4 linked regions of the Homo sapiens genome follow. The protein of the gene in region 4 interacts with the protein of the main gene of each other region in a biochemical or structural test. Each region holds a gene or a part of one and is shown on either strand. Other genes may lie near its edges.

The links.
Region 1: of the proteins of PRKG1 (region 4) and CREB1, one has a biochemical effect on the other in vitro, tested with the Homo sapiens proteins (one study listed by BioGRID).
Region 2: the proteins of PRKG1 (region 4) and WDR77 form a complex in vitro, tested with the Homo sapiens proteins (one study listed by BioGRID).
Region 3: the proteins of PRKG1 (region 4) and GTF2I form a complex in vitro, tested with the Homo sapiens proteins (one study listed by BioGRID).

Annotation. Positions count from the first base shown.
Region 1 is NC_000002.12:207,534,689-207,541,124, forward strand, and holds part of CREB1 (cyclic AMP-responsive element-binding protein 1), read left to right. Parts: intron 1-6,436.
Region 2 is NC_000001.11:111,442,824-111,446,256, reverse strand, and holds part of WDR77 (methylosome protein WDR77), read left to right. Parts: intron 1-2,132; coding exon 2,133-2,203; intron 2,204-2,335; coding exon 2,336-2,390; intron 2,391-2,862; coding exon 2,863-2,934; intron 2,935-3,433. UniProt on the Homo sapiens protein: Non-catalytic component of the methylosome complex, composed of PRMT5, WDR77 and CLNS1A, which modifies specific arginines to dimethylarginines in several spliceosomal Sm proteins and histones.
Region 3 is NC_000007.14:74,743,546-74,749,981, forward strand, and holds part of GTF2I (general transcription factor II-I), read left to right. Parts: intron 1-1,212; coding exon 1,213-1,396; intron 1,397-2,337; coding exon 2,338-2,396; intron 2,397-2,791; coding exon 2,792-2,866; intron 2,867-4,469; coding exon 4,470-4,571; intron 4,572-5,479; coding exon 5,480-5,545; intron 5,546-5,722; coding exon 5,723-5,906; intron 5,907-6,436. UniProt on the Homo sapiens protein: Interacts with the basal transcription machinery by coordinating the formation of a multiprotein complex at the C-FOS promoter, and linking specific signal responsive activator complexes.
Region 4 is NC_000010.11:51,076,813-51,083,248, forward strand, and holds part of PRKG1 (cGMP-dependent protein kinase 1), read left to right. Parts: intron 1-6,436. UniProt on the Homo sapiens protein: Serine/threonine protein kinase that acts as a key mediator of the nitric oxide (NO)/cGMP signaling pathway. GMP binding activates PRKG1, which phosphorylates serines and threonines on many cellular proteins.

The sequences.
Region 1 (6,436 bases), on a different chromosome or scaffold from region 4:
GAGTATATTTTTTATATTTCTAATTTGGTTTTTTGAATAAGTAATTCATTCACATGATCTATAATTCAAAACATAATAACAGCAAAATGCCCTACATTCTCTTGCCCTATTACCTAAGTGTTAGCAATTTTTTATTTGTCCTTTAAGAGGTGTTTTATGCAAACACGAGCAAATATGTATGTACAGTCTCCCCCTTTTTGTACAAATGGTAGCATACTAGGTATACGCTCTCCTATATCATGCTTTACCCCCACCACTTAATATGGCTTAGCAATTTTGTATCAGCACATAAAGAGCTTCTTCATTTTTTAACATACAATTGGAAGCATTTTATTATGTAAGTAGACTGTATTAACCAGTTAGTGAGCTGCTTTTATTCTTAGGTCTTATATTACCTTTTAAACTAAGGGAAACTGCCATCTTGCCTTTATTTCTTTAAATGAAAAACTTTCTATTTGAATGAAAAATAAATAGTTTGTGACAGGAAATTGTTATTTAAAGTCCCTCATTTCCTGTTTAACTCCAGTTTTTAAAAGTTTTAGTAAAATGATCAAAATGTACATGAGGAGGCAAGCAAGCCAGGTTAAGAGTTAACTCACAAGGTGAATTTAACTCTTTTGTTGAGGTTCTTACAGTTCTGAACAGACTACTTCTTTCAATTATTATTTTGGCCCAAAAGGTTTTTATAGCTTTCTTTCTTAATGAGAAAGAACATTTCATATAGTCCGGTGTTTTTTTGGGTTTTTTTTAACAGACAGCTCATGGGATATTATTACCCAGTAAGGCTGATTACTATACTAGATTTCTCCCTGCATTCATTTATTTTTTACATACTTGTTAACTTACCTTGACGATTTTCTAGTATTTCTTAATGTAATTATGTGAGTTTTATATTTTGTACCTAAATTTAAAAATAGTGAGATTCACCTATATGATTGCTGAGATGATAAACTTTACTGCATAGATGATTTTTTTACCCCCGTGGGGAAACCTTTGGTCAACCAGTTGGACCAAGTAATACGTATTTCAGCCAAAGCACAAAATGCGTTTCACTACCTTTTTTTTTTCCTCTAGCTTTTCGAAACAGCATTGAGCTACAATACTTTTTTATTTATTTATTTATTTATTTATTTTTATTTATTTATTTTTTTGAGGCAAGGTTTGGCTCTATCACCCAGGCTGGAGTGCAGTGGCACACACTTGGCTCACTGCAACCTCTGTTTCCTGGCTCAAGCCATCCTCCCATTTCAGCTTCCTGAGTGAGTGGGACAACAGGCGCGCACCACCAGGCCCGGCTAATTTTTTGTAGAGACAGAGTTTCGCCATGTTGCCCAGGCTGGTCTCAAACTCATGAGCTCAAGCCATCCACCTGCCTCAGCCTCCCAAAGAGTTGGGATTACAAGCGTGAGCCACCATGCCCGAATGCTGTAGTACATTTTAAATATACATGCTGTTTGTATTTATCTTTAAAATGTACACACTATGACTTTTTTGAGTTGATTAAACTCAGAAAGTGATTAATAATATAGCAGCAAGGGCACAAATCTCTTTCCAGAAAACATCATTAAGTAAAGCTGTCATGGGCCAGTCGCGGTGGCTGACGCCTGTGTGATCCCAGCACTTTGGGAGGCTGAGGTAGGTGGATCACCTGAGGTCAGGAGTTCGAGACCAGCCTGGCCAACATGGTGAAACCCCGTCTCTACTAAAAATACAAAAATTAGCTGGGCATGGGGGCAGGCGCCTGCAATCCCAGCTACTCAGGAGGCTGAGGCAGGATAATCACTTGGACCTGGAAGGCAGAGGTTGCAGTGAGCTGAGATTGCACCATTGCACGCCAGGCTGGGCGACAAGAGCGAAACTCTGTCTTAAGAAAAAAACAAAAGCTGTCATGGTATATTTCGTTTTTTGTATTCCCAAGTTGGTGTTTATGCGTTGATCATATATACAAAGTTTTTAATGTAAGAATATTGTTTTGAGGTTTTACTAATATTTGATTTAAAATATTACTATGTGCTATTTGGCCAGGCGTGGTGGCTCACGTCTGTAATCCCGGCACTTTGGGAGGTCGAGGCGGGCGGATCACTTGAGGCCAGGAGTTTGAGACCAGCCTGGCCAAGATGGTGAAACCCCATCTCTACTAAAAATAGAAGAATTATCTGGGTATAGTTGTATACGCCTGTAGTCCCAGCTGCTTGGGAGGCTGAGGCAGGAGAATTGCTTGAGCCCTGGAAGTGGAGGTTGCAGTGAGCCAGTATCACCCCACTGAACTCCACTCTGGGTGACAGAGCAAGATGCCATCTCATAAATAAAATATTACTGTGTGCTATTTGTACCTGCTAAATGATTAAAATGTTTACAAAGTGCTTTGTTGTTGTTGTTGTTGTTGAGACGGAGTCTTTCTCTGTTGCCAGGCTGGAGTGCAGTGGTGCGATCTCAGCTCACTGCAACCTCCGCCTCCTGGGTTAAAGCGATTCCCCTGCCTCAGCCTCCCAAGTAGCTGGGATTACAGGCGCCTGCCACCATGCCCAGCTAAAGAGACAGGGTTTCACCATGTTGGCCAGGATGGTCTCGATCTCCTTGACCTCGTGATCCACCCACCTCTGCCTCCCAAAGTGGTGGGATTACAGGCGTGAGCCACTGCGCCTGGCCTACAAAGTGCTTGTCTTTACATATTTGGGGATGGGGGTGGGGTAGATCATTGAAATCTGTAAAGGCAGAACGTTTTTTATCTGGAACATATCTGTAGACTAACAGAGTTAAATGATTTCCCACAGTGTCATGGAATCATCAGTGGATTGCCTCTTGGGGTGGAGGCAAAGATCATTAAAGCAGCAAACTGATAATGTGAACGTGGTTGTTTTTTCTCTGCCAATTAAATATATGCTAGTTTAGTCATTATAGAAGAGCCAGATGCTGGTCAGCTTGTTGAAGTTGTAAGTAGAAGGTGTGGTTTTATCACATCTGTAAATGTAGGTTTTTGAGACAAAACTTAAATAAGAATAGACGTTAGTTTTTATTCACATTCAGAATGTCTGACTCCCCTTAATATATACACACTCTTGTCTTATCTACTGGGTTTTTTTGTTGTTGTTTTTTGTTTTGCCTTTTCTCTCTCTCTTTTTAAGCTCTGCCAGACAAGGCCCTATGAAGATAGGTTTTACAGGTTGAGAATCTTTTATCTGAAATTCTTGGGACCAGAAGTATTTCCAGTTTTGGGTTTTTTCAGATTTTAGAATATTTGCATATACATACATAATGAGCTATCTTGGGGATGGGACCCAAGTCTAAACATGAAATTTGTTTCATATACACATTATACACATAGCCTGAAGGTAATTTTATACAAAATTTTTAATAATTTTGTGCATGAAACAGTTTTGACTGTGAACTGTTACATGAGGTCAGGTGTGGGAATTTTTCATGGCATCATGTCAGTGCTCAAAAAGTTTGAGATTTTGGATGTTTTATTAGGGATGCTTACCCTGTATTATATTTTGCCCAGATGTTTCCTCATTTGTCTTCTAGGCTACCAGAAAGATGTTAGCTTAGAAAAACGTATTCTGGCGTTTATTCCAACAGATGAGAAGGCAGTTTCTCCAGTGATGAATAATTACCTATAATTTAATACGTGCATTATACATCTCCAGTGATGAAAAATCACTGTGTATTAAAAAATTCTTGAAGCTAGGTACATAATCTCAACTCCTAAAAAAGAAAATAAACAGTAGTACTCCTTGATGAACTTACAGATGCTAAGTTGCCTTTTCTTAGAGTTGAAATAAGGTGATAAAGGAGTTTACCGTGAGACTAGCTGTGTGAACAAAGATGAAAAACACCCTTTCAGTTTTCTTCCTCTTGGATGATTCTAGGATCTCTAAAAAATAATCTTAAAAGGGGCGAGGTTTTGAGAGGATGAGGTCTAAGGAATTGATGGTGAGTTTTTTCTGAAAGAAGAGAAGTGACATTTGATTAGATAAGAAAGGGTTAAAAGGGAAGTTATTAATAAAATAGTTTAGGAGTAGAGTGGATCTGAAAGTTGACTTATACCAATGATGATAGAATGTGTCTTTTCCCAAAGGTTAGTGCATCTTCTCTGAAATGAAGACGTTTCTTTCATCAATTTTAAGTGAATTTCTAAGGATCTGGTTATCTACTTGTGAGTTTTTGGTTGTAACTGTATGACAGTACAGATGTAACTAAAAATGTTTGTAATTTACCCAAGGTTAAATAACCATTATTTTTGAGGGCTGTTATCCCTGTTGGTATAAGTAAGTAGTTGGCAGTAGGGGACACAGAAATACCTTGTTTTTCACCACTGAAGTGAAAATTACAGATTATTCTGAATTATTTGTACTCTTTTTTTTTTTTTTTGAGAGGAATCTCGCTCTGTCTCCCAGCCTGGAATGCAGTGGTGTGATCTCGGCTCACTGCAACCTCCGCCTCCTGGGTTCCAGCGATTCTGCTGCCCCAGCCTCCCAAGTAGCTGGGATTACAAGCATGTGCCACCATACCTGGCTAATTTTTTTTTTTTTTTTTTGTATTTTTAGTAGAGACAGGATTTCACCATGTTGGCCAAGCTGGTCTCGAACTCCTGACCTTATGTGATCTGCCTGCCTCAGCCTCCGATTACAGGCATGAACCACCGCCCCCAGCCCTATTTGTACTCTTAAAGGGGAGTCATTTTCTTATAATAAGTATCAGTAGTAGCTCTATTGTTTGCTGTGATCAATGGTGACACCTTGACTTTATGTATTGCCATTTATCAATCATTTATTCAGTGAAGATTTATTGACCATTGACTTTATTATGGTTGGTGAAATAATCGCAAGAAAATTTATTCAGTTAGGTATTTATAAAAATACCTAGGTATTAAATGAAGATTGTTCTAGTTGATATAAGCAATAAAGCCTGACTATATGGCTCCTACCCTCAAGAATCTTACGGTATAGTAGGGATGATGAAATAGTGTAAGAATGATTTATATGTGCCAGAGTACATGACAGAGTTTTTACTGTCTTGAAGAGCTACAGAGTTCAGAAGAGAAGGGGCTTAGTGAGGAAAAGTTTTGTGGGAGAAGTAGAATTCAAGTTGAATACTAAAGAACTTCAGTAAGTACAGATAAAATGGAGTGTATTCTAGGCAGTGGAATGGACAAAAAAATGAAAACATGGACATATAATGAACTTGACATACTCATAAATTGGTGAAGAAAGTATTAGATTATAGATCTACATTTTGAGGAATGCTGAGTATGAGGCAGGGAGCTTTGAGTTTCATGTAAGAGAAGGTAAGATATAAACAGGAATACAATGATAAATTGGGCTGAAATGTAGATTTCCTGACTCCCAATTCTTCTCCTTAGTGTAGACAGAGATATACAGTCATGCACTGTATAAGAACGTTTTGGTGAATGACAGATTGCATATACAACAGTGGTCCTGTGCTAGTGTAAGCAAACCTATTAAGAACTTCAGATAGGTCCTTCAGGAGGTATTCCAGAAGAAGGCATTGTTACCATAGGAGATGACAGCTCCATGCATGTGATTGCCCCTTGAAGACATTCCAGTGGGACACGTTGTGGAGGTGGAAGGCTGTGATGTTGACAATCTTGACCCTGTGTAGGCCTAGGCTAACGTGTGAATGTCTTTTTAACAAAAAATTTTAAAAAGTGGCCGGGAATGGTGGCTCACGCCTGTAATCCTAGCACTTGGGGAGGCTGAGTCAGGCGGGTTGCTTGAGCCCAGGAGTTTCAAGCAGCCTGGGCAAAATGGCGAAATCCTGTCTCTACAGAGAATACAAAAATTAATTAACTGGGCTTGGTGGTGCATGCCTGTAATCCCTGCTACTCACGAGGCCAAGGCAGGAGAACCCAAGAGGCAGAGATTGCAGTGAGCTGATACTGTGCCACTGCACTCCAGCCTGGGTGACATAGTGAGACCCTGTGTCAAAAAAATAAAGTTTAACAAAAAAGTTTAAAAAGTAAAAAAAAAAAAAAAAAAAAAAAAAAAAGGAAAAAACCTTAGATTCTTTTATTGCTTTACTTTATTACTAAATTTGCTTTCACTTAAAAACCCTTTAGAGAAAAAATATTTTTATACAGCTGTACAATTTATTTGTGTTTTAAGCTATGTGTTATTACAAAAGAGTTGACAAGTTAAAAAAACTAAAAAGCATATGAAGTTACAGTAAGCTACGGTTAATGTATTACTGATGAAAGAAAATTTTGTTTATATAAATTTAGTGTAGCCTGGATGGGCACAGTGGCTCACACCTGTAATCCCAGCACTTTGGGAGGCCAAGGCAGGTGGATTACCTGAGGTTAGAAGTTCGAGACCAGCCTGGCCAACATGGTGAAACCCTGTTCCTACTAAAAGTGCAAAAATTAGCCAGGTGTGGTGGCAGGCGCCCGTAATCCCAGCTACTCAGGAGGCTGAGG
Region 2 (3,433 bases), on a different chromosome or scaffold from region 4:
CAAGGTTTAGATGCTGGGGGATCACTGTGGTTCTCTCAATGGCTAAGTGCCTTTCCCTGCCATTTCTAACTTCAAAGTACATGACTAAGTTATAGGCCAGAGAAATCACTGACTCATATCCAAGGTCCAGTATCCTGGACCCTCAGGGTCACTTGGAAATAGTTTTACAATAATGTTGAATGCCCAGCTGTGCGCAGTGGCTTAACGCCTGTAATCCCAGCACTTTGGGAGGCTGAGGCGGGTGGATCATATGAAGTCTAGGAGTCAGAGACTAGTCTGGCCAACATGCCGAAACCTTGACTCTACCAAAAAGTACAAAAATTAGCCAGGCGTAGTGGTGCACATCTGTAATCCCAGCTACTTGGGAGGCTGAGGCCCGAGAAGTGCTTGAACCCTGGAGGCGGAGGTTGCAGTGAGTCGAGATCACGCCACTGCACTCCAGCCTGGGCAACAGAGTGAAACTGTCTCAGGGAAAAAAAAAAAGTCAATGTTCTATGTCTATTATATTTGCTTTTTATTTCTTAGACATATGATGTGCTTTCCTGGTTAATGCTAACTCTTTTTCAGCATTTCTGCCATGCAGCCTTTTTGTTAGTTCTTTGTGTTTGTGTCTTATTCCCCCTGCTGAATTCCAAATCCTTTATTATTTTTCTATTTTTTGTAGAGACAGAGTCTTGCTATGTTGCCCAGGCTGGTCTCAAATTCCTGGGCTCAAGTGGTCTCCTGCCTTGGCCTCCCAAAGTGCTGAGAGATACAGGCATGAGCCACTGCACCCTGCCCCAAAACCTTTGAGGGTAGAGGAACCATGTATTCATCTTTTGTACACCACCATGGTGCTTGTCCCAGAGCTTTGCTTTTTTCAAGTGAGCAATAAATTCCTTTTCTTACTTCTTATCCTGTTGGCTTTCTATGAATTCTAGGGCTAGGAAAGAACTATGGAAACTGGTTTAATTCCATCCTTCTGCCTCAGGGAAGGGCCACATTCAGACTACCTGGGAAAGTCTGGTAAAATGACTGTAGAAAAGGTTTCCACAGCTTCTAATTAACATGTAGCAGTGACTTTAAAGTTTTTTACATGTAGACCTCCTAAAACAGTTTTGAAAATCTGTGCCCCCTCATACATTTTTAAACTGATACCTAAAAATGCTTATTTAAGTAGTTGCAGAGAAGGTAATTTCTGGCATATAATTTATTGTGTGCTTATTTCAAGCATATATTTGTCAAAATTTTAGATTCGCAGGTTAACGCTACTTAGTTTGCATGAATGTCTACCAAACAGCCTAACTGGCAAAAGCCAGTCTGCATTGTAAAGCCAGTGGACCAAGATAGACTAAATTTTCTGTCAGAAAAAGTCTGACTTTGTTTTTAAATTCAGATAAAGTTGTTGAATATGTCCTTATCACAATGATCTATCATATTTTTTAGTTCTCATTATTAGACAGAAACAGAGTTAAGTCACAGAGCCATACTTGTGTTTGTGGTGTGACTGAAACAAGATCAGCCCCCTTCATTGAATTTTACCTAGATGCTCTTTCTTTTTGCTCTTTGGTTCTTATGGAAAAGCCCCTTTTGTCCCTTAGTTTAGAACCCTTATATTTTTATACCCCTGAGCATTGTAGCGTGGAAAGATCTGGGATGAATGACAGGTATGTGTTCTTTCTATGAAGTGGGAGAAGAGTGATTGAAAACAGAGGCAGTTCAATTTTAAGAAAGAGAACATTAGAGAAATTGGCTCTCTTAATACTATTAGCGCCCAGAACTCCCTCAAAAGTTTTTGTATACTACTTGGAGGTGTGTGTACTCCAGTATGAAGACTGCTATTCTAGAATTATTTAGCCCTCACGTCTAGGATGCCTAAACTGGAAATTCCTTTGTTATTCTTACTAAGCCCCTAATTTCTCATTCATTATCTTCACTAATACGTTTTTTTTTTACAAGGCTTTTTAGGTTTTATAAGTCTATAAACTTCTCCTCTTAGCTTTTGTCTAATCCATAATCTCCCACAAAATTTGTTAAATTGCATCATGAGACCAGCCCTCCCTCCCTCCTGCCCCTTGATTATTCCTGGGCTGGCCCTCTAGTAATGCTTCAGCTTGTTTTCTATCATATTTCTCTTTCTCTCTCCTTTATAGCTCATGCTGCTCAGGTCACTTGTGTTGCTGCCTCTCCTCACAAGGACTCTGTGTTTCTTTCATGCAGCGAGGTAAGAGATAGCTCCTTCTTCCCTAAACACACTCCAGCCATCCATAGGCCAAAGTCTCTAGTGGGGAGACTTTCTGGCCTGCAACTGCTCCTTTGGATTATGAAATCCTTTTTCTGTTCCACCTTCCTCTAGGACAATAGAATTTTACTCTGGGATACCCGCTGTCCCAAGCCAGCATCACAGATTGGTGAGTCTGAGATTCATTGGTGGGAGAATAGTACTTGGAACCCTGATAGAAGAGACTGTCTTTGGCCAGTGTCAAAGCATAGTTGCTAGATGCCCAGTGTAGTTACTGTGACATGAGTGACATAATCTCCTTCTTTTCCAGTGAGGCTCTGCTAACCCCATTCTGTGCAATGAATACCAAGAGGAAGGGCCAGTTCCTGGGTGGGTGATTTACTTTATTAGATGGTAGGACAAAGGGGCCAGAATTGTTATCGTCATGATTCGTGCCTGAAACTTGCCTGTGACTCGTGTCCAGAAAGGGCAGGAGGCTGCTGGGATAAATGGTTATGAGGCTCAAGGATGAGGACACTGCTGCCTTAGCAGGGTTTGGGAAATCAAATAAAGGTGCTCCCAGGATTTAGAGTGATATCATTTGAGAAACTGCTTCTTCTGTACTCTGAGTTTTGGTCCAGACCCTCGTCTCTCCTTTGCAGGCTGCAGTGCGCCTGGCTACCTTCCTACCTCGCTGGCTTGGCATCCTCAGCAAAGTGAAGTCTTTGTCTTTGGTAAGGCAGCGTGTCAGACTTCATATTGACTCTGGGAAAGGGGAGGAGGAAAAAGAAAGAGCTGACTCCACAACACACAAGGCCCTTGTTGCTCAGTCTTAGCCCTCATGGACACTAGATGAATTATGAATTGAGGGTGGGGAGGTGGGGTGATGCCAACGTAGTTTTAGTGTAGTTTTGGAGAACATGATTATTTTCCCAGTGGATTTGATTTTTGATTGATTGATCCAGCTTCTGTATTCTGGGCATGGCTATAAGTCAGTGATCCACAAAGCAAGTGGATTGCTATATAGCGAATTCTGTCCTACTGTGGGTAGGTGTAGCGCTATCGTGGTCATGAGGCTGTGTATATGGTGACATAGTTTGTGGTTAAAATAATAACTGCTTCGTTCATTAACTTAATTTTCACAATGATCCAGTGACTTATTATTCCTACTTTGCAAAAGAGAAAACTGATGCTCAGAATGGTTAACTTTTACAAGCTCGAGGAACTAGGATT
Region 3 (6,436 bases), on a different chromosome or scaffold from region 4:
TTTAATAACATATCAACAAAGGGCCATGTCTGAATGAAGTATAGAAGTTCGGGACCAGCCGGGTGCAGTGGCTCACGCCTGTAATCGCAGCACTTTGGGAGGCCAAGGCGGGCGGATCAGGAGGTCAGGAGATCGAGACCATCCTGGCGAACACGATGAAACCCCGTCTCTACTAAAAATACAGGAAAATTAGCCGGGCGTGGTGGCGGGCGCCTGTAGTCCCAGCTACTCGGGAGGCTGAGGCAGGGGAATGGCTTGAACCCCAGAGGCGGAGCTTGCAGTGAGCCAAAATCGCACCACTGCACTCCAGCCTGGGCGACAGAGTGAGACTCTGTCTCAAAAAAAAAAAAAAAAGAAGGAAAAAAAGTTCAGGACCTAAAGAAGGAAGGTCCCAGAAACTGGGTTTCTGTTTCTTTCTACCACTACACTTGCTACTGAAACCAAGCAGATGACTTCATTTCTCTTGGATTCCACTTTCTCACGTGTCAGAATGGGAGAGGAAGGGAGGTGTTGGGATAAGTTTCAGTTCCACTGTTTGTACTTCTCGTCTGGCTAACACCCATGTGGCAAATAGGTTTCATCATTTGTTTCAGCTTAGATTTGTTGACAGCGGTTTCCTGGAGTGCTGTCTTGAGAACGATTCTGAGGAGGCTCAGCAAGAAAGAGTGTTTCAGTTGATTGGGTGTGTCTGTCATGGAGAAGGAAGTAAGGAGTGGGCAGTGCTAGCAAAATTCCCGGGGCACTTCTGTCCATTATCTCAATACCTGGGGTTGACATTTCCTGTCTCAGATCAGGAGTCCTGACTACCCTGCCTCTGACCACTCGAACTGAGTGCTGCTTAGCTGTATCGTAGACACCGCCTGTTTGTGAACAGACACCCTGCTTCTTGATGATAACACAAAGGCCAGCAGGGTCCACTGCTGTGTGGAATGGCCTTCGGTCATTTCTGCCCAGAGCATAGAGGTCATTTTCACTAATAACATAACTCTCCTTTTGATTGAAAGTGTTAAAATGTTCCTCCTAAAAGCACTTATTTTTTAGGCTCGTTCTTCAGATTTGCCCCATATCCTAAGCAAAATGCCTTCAATATGAAGTGGATATTGCTTGACCGTAGGGAGCTTGTCCATACTGTACTCGAGAATGTAGACACAAAGAAAGAATGTCTGTGTCAAATGTTATCCTCCGCAACTTAACGTTCTCTTGCACTTTCAGCTCAAGCTCTTGGACTCACCGAGGCAGTAAAAGTACCATATCCTGTGTTTGAATCAAACCCGGAGTTCTTGTATGTGGAAGGCTTGCCAGAGGGGATTCCCTTCCGAAGCCCTACCTGGTTTGGAATTCCACGACTTGAAAGGATCGTCCGCGGGAGTAATAAAATCAAGTTCGTTGTTAAAAAGTAAGTTCTTTTTGCCACTGTAGTCGTTTCTGGAATCAAAACAATAAAATGACATTTCTGTTAAGATGTTTTTCAAGCTAGAGGTGACAGGCGTGGCTGTAAGTCCTTGATGGCAAAGCCTGGCTGTGAGCTGCAGTCCGGGTACTGTCCATTGCCCCTGCCCATACTCAATCATCTTCATCCGTGCAAGGAAAATAGTGACAATCGCCTCCGCGGAGTCACCGTGAGGCCCCGTGGTGACTCGCAGTATGCCTGAGTACTTGAATGGAAGTTTAATTTGCTGGTTTTTATCTGCTCTGTTATTCCTGGTCAATCTTGAGAGCGACTAAATATTGATGATTGAGTTTCTTTCTTTTTTTTGAGACGGACTCTTGCTCTGTCGCCCAGGCTTGAGTGCGGTGGCGCAATCTCAGCTCACTGCAACCTCCGCCTCCTGGGTTCGAGCAATTCTCGTGCCTCAGCCTCCCGAGTAGCTGGGATTACAGACTTGCACCGCCACGCCTGGCTAATTTTTGTATTTTTAGAATAGATGGAGCTTCACCGTGTTGGCTAGGCTGGTCTGGAATTCCTGACCTCAGGTGATCCACCCGCCTCAGCCTCCCAGAATGCTGGGATTACAGGCATGAGCCACCGTGCACGGCCTAATGATTGATTTTCTTATCTACATTTCTGCAGAATTTTAGTGGCTAAAGAAAGTACACTAGTGTTTTTTTTTTCTTTTTTAATGAAAATAGTCACTTATTTACTCTTCATAAAATGGCTTACCAGTCATGGGAAGGAAAAGTCAGGGTCTTTTGTCCACAACACTAGGAATTATTGTGTTACAGGATGATTCTGTGAATGCCTTTAGAAAAAAAACCCTGATCACATCACGACCGTTTTACTAGCTGTGAGGCCACCACTGTGCTGGCTACTGTAACACTTCTTGGTTTTCTTTCTAGACCTGAACTAGTTATTTCCTACTTGCCTCCTGGGATGGCTAGTAAAATAAACACTAAAGGTAAGAGACGACGTGTACTCCGTATCCTATTTGAGCGCATTAAGACACTCTTTATCCGCATTCCTTAAATCATACGGAATCGGCCAATATCTCTGTGGGGCTTGGAGTTGTTTACTTTGCTTTCTAAGGTATTTTATTTAATGGAACTATTTTTCTTTTTTTTTTTTAAAAAAACAAAACATTTCATTGGAAATGTCACATTTGCAATCCCAGTTCATTCATGTTTTCACAGCTTTGTTGAGCCCCTGTGGAGGATTACACTACAAGTTTAATTCTGCAGGTTTCTTTGAAAAGAACCAAACTGTATGAATTTTAATACTCTGCTCTTATAAAGCATCTCCTTCTGTATTTTTTTTTCCCTACAATATACAAAAGGAACTCTGCTTATTTTACAGCTTTGCAGTCCCCCAAAAGACCACGAAGTCCTGGGAGTAATTCAAAGGTTCCTGAAATTGAGGTCACCGTGGAAGGTAAGGGCCAGTCCTCGGTATGTTTCTGTTCATTCTCTAGTTTACTAATTATGTCAGTTCACTAGCTATGTGTTTATACAGGTTTATACAGATGACGTTAACCAAACTAGCTTTTAACTGTGAACAGCTGCCTGTGATAAAGCTAAATTTCTGAATGCTTCTAATTGAAAATTTTTAAATCCTTAATAGAAAACAGATAACATGGATCACATCATAAACTTCCCCCAAGAAAAGTCCTAAAATGCTTTTCCTTTATCATAACAAATAAGGGTGCAGAGTCATGTGGAATGTTTTATCTTTTTTTTCCTCTTCATTTTTTTCTATTGTTTTAAGGAAAGAAAGTTTAGGGTGGTTTAAACAGCAGTGCCTTGAATAAAAGTATTTTCTTTTTCTTTTTTGAGACAGAGTCTGGCTCTCTTGCCCAGGGTGGAGTGCAGTGGCACAATCTCGGCTCACTGCAGCCTCCGCCTCCCGGGTTCAAGTGATTCTCCTGCCTCAGCCTCCCAGGTAGCTGGGATTACAGGCGTCCACCACCAACTCCAGCTAATTTTTATATCTTTAGTAGAGACGGGGTTTTACCACGTTGGCCAGGCTGGTCTCGAACCCCTGACCTCAAGTGAGCCACCACGCCCAGCTGGTTCTTGTCTTTTCAGGCTCACAGTGTTAAAATACTGCATACAATACTAAAGACAATCTCCAACCAACTGTCAAGTATGGATATTTCTTCCATCTCTTCATAAATGCAGAAGGAAATCACTGCATTAGGATCATTCTCTACATCCCAGGTGTCAAGTTTTTAAATAAGAGTTTGCCGTACTGGTGTTGAGTGGCGCAGAAGTCCCTATTTAGTCATGTGGCACACTTTCAGAGAGCCTGCTTTCTCATAAGATAGCCAACAAGCATCCATGGACAACTTACACCTGATTAATTATTTCTGTTCAAAAATGCCAAGAATTAAAAATATATTGAACCCTTGACTTTCCTCCTTCCGGAAGAGATCAGAGGAAGATCTCTCTTATATACAAGATGCCAGCCTTTCCTAAAGGGCAGAGCCAAGTTCACGGGGCCTGGGAGGCCTGCTTTAAGAATACAAAATTAGGGCCAGGCGTGGAGGCTCACGCCTGTAATCCCAGCACTTTGGGAGGCCGAGGCAGGCGGATCACCTGAGGTTGGGAGATCGAGACCAGCCTGACCAACATGGAGAAACCCCATCTCTACTGAAAATACAAAATTATCTGGGCCTGGTGGCGCATGCCTGTAATCCCAGCTACTCAGGAGGCTGAGGCAAGACAATCGCTTGAAACCAGGAGGCAGAGGTTGTGGTGAGCCGAGATTGCGCCATTGCACTCCAGCCTGGGCAACAAGAGCGAAACTTTGTCTCAAAAAAAAAAAAAAAAAAGAAGAAGAAGAAGAAGAGAAGAAAAATGGGTTTCTGTAGAAATAGAAAAATGGTTTCTGTGGAACTCGCCGGAATGACAAGAATACCCATTTCAATTTGAACCTAGCTTTGTTTTCTGGCACAGGCTGGACTTGAAGATTGTAACCTAGAGACACTTACGTCATTAAATGTGTGTTGATTATCATTATTTTTTCTGTCTTTTAGGCCCTAATAACAACAATCCTCAAACCTCAGCTGTTCGAACCCCGACCCAGACTAACGGTTCTAACGTTCCCTTCAAGCCACGAGGGAGAGAGTTTTCCTTTGGTAAGTAAGCGTTTTATTTTTCTTTCTTTCATAGTTTTAAATAGAATACGTTCATTATGTTTCATTTTACCAGGTGAATTGTTCCTATTGGTGAGTCAGTATATATCAAAGGTTAAAGGAATAGCCCGTAGAGCCAGGCTGCCTGAGTTCAGATCTGAGTTCAAATCCGATGCCACTTGGGCAGGCGAATACACCCTGCCTCAGTTTCCCTTTGTGCAAAATGGTAATAACATTACTTTCTTTCTCATGAGGTTATGGTGAGGATTATAAATACTGTCATTTAAAGTACTTAGAACCATACCTCGCATGTAGTAGAGACTATAATTTGTGGGGGCATTTTGGGGGTTTTCATTTGTTTTTTCTTTATTTTAGCATTTGTTCACTTATTTGTAGTCAACATAAAAGCAATGTACTAAAACAGTTTGCTTATGTATCAGGATGGGAGTAGTTGTCAAGTCATATCATGGTAAAAGATTATGCATTTTTTATTTCTTCTTAAAGATGCACAAATAAGGCCAGGCGCAGTGGCTCACGCCTGTAATCCCAACACTTTGGGAGGCCGAGGTGGGCGGATCACCTGAGGTTGGGAGTTCGAGACCAGCCTGACCAACATGGAGAAACCCCGTGTCTACCAAAAATACAAAATTAGCCAGGCATGGTGGCGCATGCCTGTAATCCCAGCTACTCAGGAGGCTGAGGCAGGAGAACTGCTTGAACTCAGGAGGTGGAGGTTGCAGTGAGCAGAGATCGCACCATTGCCCTCCAGCCTGGGTAACAAGAGCGAAACTCTGTCTCAACAAAAAAAAAATAAGATGCACAAATAAGATGAAACACTCCTGCCTGTGAATGTGTATTGATAAGTACTGTGATAAGTATTGCAATTTAACTCTCTTATGTTTTATATGCAGAGGCCTGGAATGCCAAAATCACGGACCTAAAACAGAAAGTTGAAAATCTCTTCAATGAGAAATGTGGTAAGTCTATTTTGAAACCTTCTTACTGCCACGCAGGGTGCCTTCATGGGAGTAGGAGGGAGCAGAGTGGGATACTGAGCGTTGGAGTATCCCTGTCATTGGCAACGTGTGGGTTTTTCGGGATTGAATGGCGTCATTTCGCCCATGTTCTGTTTCGTGTACGCGGCTGTTTTGCAGGGGAAGCTCTTGGCCTTAAACAAGCTGTGAAGGTGCCGTTCGCGTTATTTGAGTCTTTCCCGGAAGACTTTTATGTGGAAGGCTTACCTGAGGGTGTGCCATTCCGAAGACCATCGACTTTTGGCATTCCGAGGCTGGAGAAGATACTCAGAAACAAAGCCAAAATTAAGTTCATCATTAAAAAGTAAGGAAACTGGATGAAGTGGGATTAGCATGAGTTGATTGTGTTTGACACTGGGAGATGGGTATGTGGGTTTGTGTTTGTGGCAGGGCTGAATTAGCTCTGGAGTCAGAAAAACTGCTTTTTAAGCTGCACTCTTGTATATGTTTAAAACTTCTGGCCAGGTGCGATGGCTCACACCTGTAATCCCAGCACTTTGGGAGGCCAAAGCAGGTGGATTACCTGAGGTCAGAAGTTCAAGACCAACCTGGCCAACATGATGAAACCCATCTCTACTAAAAGTACAAAAATTAGCTGGGCGTGGTGGCACGTGCCTGTAATCCCAGCTACTTGGGAGACTGAGGCAGGAGAATCACTTGAACCCAGCAGGCAGAGGTTGCAATGAGCCAAGATCGTGCCACTGCACTCCAGCCTGGGCAGCAAGAGCAAAACTCCATCTCAAAAACAAAAAAAAAAAAAAAAAAGAAGAAGAAATTTTCCTTATGCTGCTGGTAGAAGGGAAGGAGGACTCCACCATACTAGAGAGATAACGA
Region 4 (6,436 bases):
ACATTTTATCTATCATTATAATAACATTTTATCTATCAAACAACACTGTGTGTCCTGATACTGATTTCTTACTAATAACTTGTATTTTAAAGGACTCAGCTCTTAAGGTATTGCCATGATGCTTTGGGTGACTCTGAAGTATTTTATTGAGGAAAATGATAGAATGCCTTCCAAGCTTAAATAATTTTGGAAAAACATCTGTTCTTTTTTCACACTTACATAAAGAAAACTAGAAAAAAATTGGCTTGAGTAGTAGAAAGTGTACCTTTCTTAGGGAAAAAAGAAGTACATTGTATGCAAAATGAATAAATCTTATGTTGTTTGAATGGTTGTACAAGGTAGCTCCACAAAGAGTTAAGAAAACCTGCCAAACCAAAGAAGACTTGTTTGCCTTTCAATGTATTTCACTATGAATAATTTGATTACACGGACTTACTGGCAACAAGTGTTTGTGTCTTTGTATTTCATCTTTACTACATCTTAAATGTAGCCATCTTTCTTAAACATACATATAGATTATTGTGAGTTTCCAGTTAAAATGAAACTATCTAAATAGACACATTAATTTCCAGTTTACGTTCATGCTAGTTTTTGATTCTCTTTTTTTTAGATGTAGGTAACTGCCCCGCTAATGTTCTGTTCATTTATCTGATATATGCAAATATATCTGTTTAGTTTTTACTTACTAAGGTTGCCTTCTGAGGATTATAATTTTTTTTAGTTCTGGTTTCTTGGTAAATTTGGTCATTTAAAAATAGTATAAAATGTAAATTAACTTAATAACTTGAATCATTTTAACATTTTTGGCTTGGAATTTTTCCTTTAATGTGGGAATTGGAGGGAAGGTTCTGTCAGATTCCAGCACTGAGCCAGGACACTCCTGCTATAACTATGAGGTAGGAGGAGGGTTTTTATTGGTCTCTTTCACAATCTGTATAGATACAATACTTATGTGAAGGAAAGAACTGATGTAGCAAATTGGAATCTGTATTCCACTGCTACCAAATAACTCCTTGAGAATGTAAAACTACTAAACTATATTTGGAAATAAACTGAGCAAATAAACCCTTAAAATGAAAAACAAAACCTAAGCATTCATTATGTGAGATCAGATAGCCTGTTGATTGCCTATATAGAATAGTTCTTATGGACTTAAGTAATTTTATTTCATGAAGTTTCATTCCTGAAATTGATTCTATATCATGTTAGAACATTCAGTCTCTGAAATTTTGATCTAAACCCCTTATCTTTTGAAAATATTCCCAAATCTTTTCCATTTTCATGTCACAGGGTTTCAGTCATTTCAGTTGGATTATATAGACTTGAGTTCCTAAAAGTGGTTAGTGTCTTTGTATTTTTGTAAGCTGTTGCTTTCACTCCATGTTCTATTTTGTTTCCTTTCTTTTTCCTTTGTTGTTGTTGTTGAGACAGAGTCTCACTCTGTCACCCAGGATGGAGTGCAGTGGCACGATCTTGGCTCACTGTAACCTCCGCCTCCAGGGTTCAAGCAACTCTCCCATCGCAGCCTCCTGAGTGGCTGGGATTACAGGCACGTGCCACCAATGCCTGGCTATTTTTTTTTTTTTTTTTTTTTTTTAGTAGAGATGGGGTTTCGCCATTTTGGCCAGGCTGATCTTGAACTCCTGAACTCAGGTTATCAGCCCACCTGGGCCTCCAAAAGTGCTGAGATTACAGATGTGAGCCACCACACCTGGCCCCTGTTTCACTTTTTCATTGCGAAGTACTTTGGAGGAGTTGAGGATAAAAATATTTATTTATATTTATTTATTTATTTATTTATTTATTTATTTATTTATTTATTGAGACGGAGTCTCGCTCTATCGCCCAGGCTGGAGTGCAGTGGTGCCATCTCAGCTCACTGCAAGCTCTGCCTCCCGGGTTCACACCATTCTCTTGCCTCAGCCTCCTGAGTAGCTGGGACTACAGGCGCCAGCCACCACGCCCGGCTAATTTTTTTGTATTTTCAGTAGAGACGGGGTTTCACAGTGTTACCAGGATGGTCTTGATCTCCTGACCTCATGATCCGCCTGCCTTGGCCTCCCAAAATGCTGGGATTACAGGTGTGAGCCACCGCACCCGGCCTATTTTTATTTTTAAGGAGGCATTCATTTTAAGAGATTATTTAATCTTTTAAACTTTATACTGATATATCTCAAGAAAAACAAAATGTTCCTAAAGACTGTATATTAAATTCTGTTGGAAGTTGAGAGAATTCTAGAATTCTAGTGTAATCATAGATGGCATAATATTAAAACATAGATGGCTTGAAAGGTAGAAATTTAATTCCAAAAGTGCCCTACATCTCAGTTCAATACTTCTATGGGATTGCCTGTGACATGCAAAATATTGTAAGGCATTAGAGGTAAGAGCTACATAGGTCCTACCATCCAGGAGTGAACAAGGGGTTAACAATACTGCACAAGTAAATATTCTAGAAAGTAGATAGAGTAAGGTAAGTCACAGGGGAGATAACTAAGAGAGTTGGCAAAATATAATCAAGCCTGTTTGGTTTTATGGTGTCAGAAACTCATGTGGAAGTAGAAGGGTTTAAAGTAAGTATTTGAAGAAGGGCTATGATTTAGGTGAGTGGAAATGAGAGGAAAGAGGGAGGGATAGAGATAGGGATTGGGGAAATACATTCCAAGCCATTAGCAAAGTGACAGCACAGAAAAAGAAAGCAGGGCCCCTCTGGGAATTGGGAGCAACTAGTGGCTGTGCTAAAGTACTGTAGTGGGAACTGTGGAAAAGCAAGTTTAGGCCAGTGAGAATGAGAATCTTGGTTTCTATGATTTGATAAAGTAGGCGAGAGGGCATTCTTTTGGGTTTTAGAATAGCTAAGGCTCATTTGTGTGTGTGTGTGTGTGTGTGTGTTTTACACCAAGGACTAATAGTTACCCACTAATGCAGTTCTGAATGCCAGAATATCAGTTCAGCTTTCTTACCCCCACCATCACAGTCCTGTTAATAGTCGTAACTATATAACTAGGTAAGAGTAGTTAATTGAAGCAAACAGCAGATGATTAGAAGTCTTAAAGAAACCAAGTTCCAAGTTCCTTTTTCCACTCACTTCCAAATGTTCTCATTGAAAGTAATCTAACTTGATGCCACAGACTAGCACTGCAGATTCCTCACATACCTAGGCAAACTGAACATCAATGAGAATTGAACCTGAAGTTGTTTTTCGAAAGTCATCTTTCTTGTTTTTGTGGAGGAGTTAAATTCCAACCTAATGTTATTCTAATAGAGTTTCTAATTTAAGGTTGATTGTTAATTTGACATTACAGTTTATGCAGTAGAAATGAAGTCCCGGGAGCATTTATAAAAATGTATGAGACCAGCGTGCTAAAACCCTATTAGGGTATTTTGAAGCACAGTCAAGTTGCATGCCCCCAAAATGGGTCTTATAATGAAGATACTGGTAAGCTCTTAAATAGAATGGCTCTACTACCTGCCTGAGAATATAAATTACCAGCTTCCTTGCTCTACTGGGTCACATTTCCAAGCTCCTGCTACTTGTTATCTGGATTCCTAATGGGAAAGGGTAGAAGAACACAGATGATGTTTCTATTGTTGCTGTTTGCAGGTTATAAGGCATATGGACACATTTTTTTTTCTGTCTGCCTAGCAATGGAGGGTCTCCATGGTATCCTAGCAACCATATTCGAACACCAGGCTGCTGCTCTTTCTGCCATCTCTACCATAGGTGCTGCAGCCCATCCCAAGAAACTGGGTCTGTTGCTAGCATTCCAGATCCTCTGACTTGAACCTTTCAAGCTCAGAGAACGCAAGACAATGTGATAAATAAGCACATGCTGAAAGCAGCATTTACCAGTATGCTCAACAACTTATTATGCAATCACATCCTTGGCATTTTGTATCCTAATCTGAATTGTTGAGCTGGTACTGTTTGCCACCCCTTCCCCGACAGCCCTTGTCTGCTTCCTCACACTCAGTTCTGACACCGGTTCTGCTTCCCTCTCACCATCTTCTGTAACGACTGTGTTCCTCAGCACTTCCTTAAAATTTATTTTCTGAGAAGTTCAGTATGTGCAACCTGTTTGAACTCTCTAAGGATAATTTTGTTTGTAAGAGCAGAGGAATTTTCTCCCTCCAAAACTGTCCTGTAAATATAAACAATAGCACAAAAACTTCAGCTACACAAAACAGATGTTTAACACAATGTGGAACTAATAGTACACTCTCAAAACTGTCTTATTTCTGAATGAATTTTATAAGCATACTACTCTCCAGCTTTTTTCATTGCTTATAAAATTCATATAAGCATTCCTTCTGGAGGCTCTAGGGGAGACTCCATATCTTGTCTTTTTCAGCTTCTAGAGGCTGCCTATATTTTAAGCGTGAAATTTATAAGCAATGAAAAAAGCTGGAGAGTAGAGTGAGAAGAAGAAATGCATATCGAGGGAACAAGAAAGGGCGAAACGAGATGGGTATTGGTAAAACTATGCCATATTTGCAAGGAAGTTGGAAAATAGTGATAGGCTTTGTGTGCAAGTAAATAGGTGACAAGACTGGAAAAGAGCTTGCAAGTAAGATAGTACTTTATGGATGAAGACTGCCATAGAGAAGAGACACCCAAATTAGAGTATATCGAAGGCTTGCCTTCTTAGGGAGCTATACTGAAGATAGTTTCCCATTAGACCAGTGCTTGTTTTGAATGCATTGTATTGTCCCTTTGAAATGCTCCTTAATTTGACATCATTGAGGACTTGGTGGTGTTTGTGCAGCCAACAGTGCAGAGGACAAGAATAAGGGCAACAACTCAGTGCATCCTGCTTCTGAATGAAAGCATCAAGAATTACACTGCTCATCATCATCAGATTGGGTAACATTTATGGAGCACTAACTCTGTGCCAGGCACTGCTCCTGTGCTTTATATAGATTGTCTCTTTCATTGATTGAATGATTGATTGATTGATTGAGACAGGTTCTTTCTGTCTTATTGCCCAGGCTGGAGTGCAGTGACACAGCCATAGCTCACTGCAGCTTCAAACTCCTGGGCTCAAGTGATCCTCTTGCCTCAGCCTCCAGAGTAGCCAAGATTATAGGCACATAGCACCACACCTGGATAATTTTTAATTTTTTTCTGTAGAGACAGGGTCTCAGTTGCACAGGCTGGTCTTGAACTTCTGGCCTCAAATGATTCTCCAGCATCTGGGCCTCCAAAGAAAGTGCTGGGAATACATATGTAAGCCACCGCACCCCACCTGATCATCTTTTTTTTAGGACAAAAACAACCCTATGAGGAAGATTCTGGATTATCCCAATTTCACAGCATGAGAAAAAGAACTCTGGGGCGCAGAGAAGTGAAGCAACTTGCCCACAGTCACACTAGGTTGAGCCTGAATTTGAGCTCCAGAGCTTTTCTCCTTAGCCACTAGGCTCTCTTACTGCCCAAAGGGTCATGGGGATTAGGTAGCTGCAGGAAAACTTTATGAATAACATATAGGTCATTCTCTGGGGTGTATCTGTTCACCAATAATTAAATAGGAAGCAGAAGGACTCTGGGACTAGTGGAAGAAATAATGTAGGACGGCGGTTCCCAAACTTTCCTGCGCATTAGAATCACATGGGGAACATAAAAATCCAATTCCTAGATTGTACCACAAACCAATTAAAATCAGAATGTCCGGGTGTTGGAAGCTACATATCAGTAATTTTTGATGATTCTCCATGTAACTTTAACGTGTAGCAAAATTTGATAACCACTCTAATAGGAAGATGACAAGAGGAGTGTGTGTGTTTGTTGTGTGTGTACATTTGTGTGTGATATTAAACAAAAGACCAGGATAAAGTGTTCATCTAAAGAGTTGAATGTCTCTATTGGCTAAAACCTTTAAGCACTAGGGGCCTGCGAAAGCATAGCTGGATTTTTTTTTTTGCCAAATTGTACGTGTAGACAAATTGTACGTGTAGTTTAGTTGATGCCTTCTTGTTTATTCTCCTAAACAAGTGATCATTTCCCTACCTAGCCCATTGGTTCTCAAACATAGCTGTATGTTACAATCACCTAGGGAGCTTTAAAACATACATTTGCTGGGCACCACCTCCAGAGCCTATGATTTAATTGCTCTGGGGTAGACCTGAGGTATAGGTATATTATTTTTACTCCCAAAGTGATTATAATATTCAGCCAGGGTTGAGAAACCTCTGCTATGACCCATTCATTGTTGATTGTTACAGACTACTTGAATTCCTATTCTTTGGGGAAGCACCTTTCTTGTTTCTTTTTGAGCAACCCAAGTCCCTGGCTTGCAGTGGAGCCAGGCAGCTTCAGCTCCCCAATCTCCCTAGCATCTGAACCTATCAGCATCACTTTAATCTCTGGGGTTACCTGTTAAGGACCTGGGGCACACAAAAGTGGCAGCAGCTCTGTTCAGTGGGTAAGTTTGTTTCC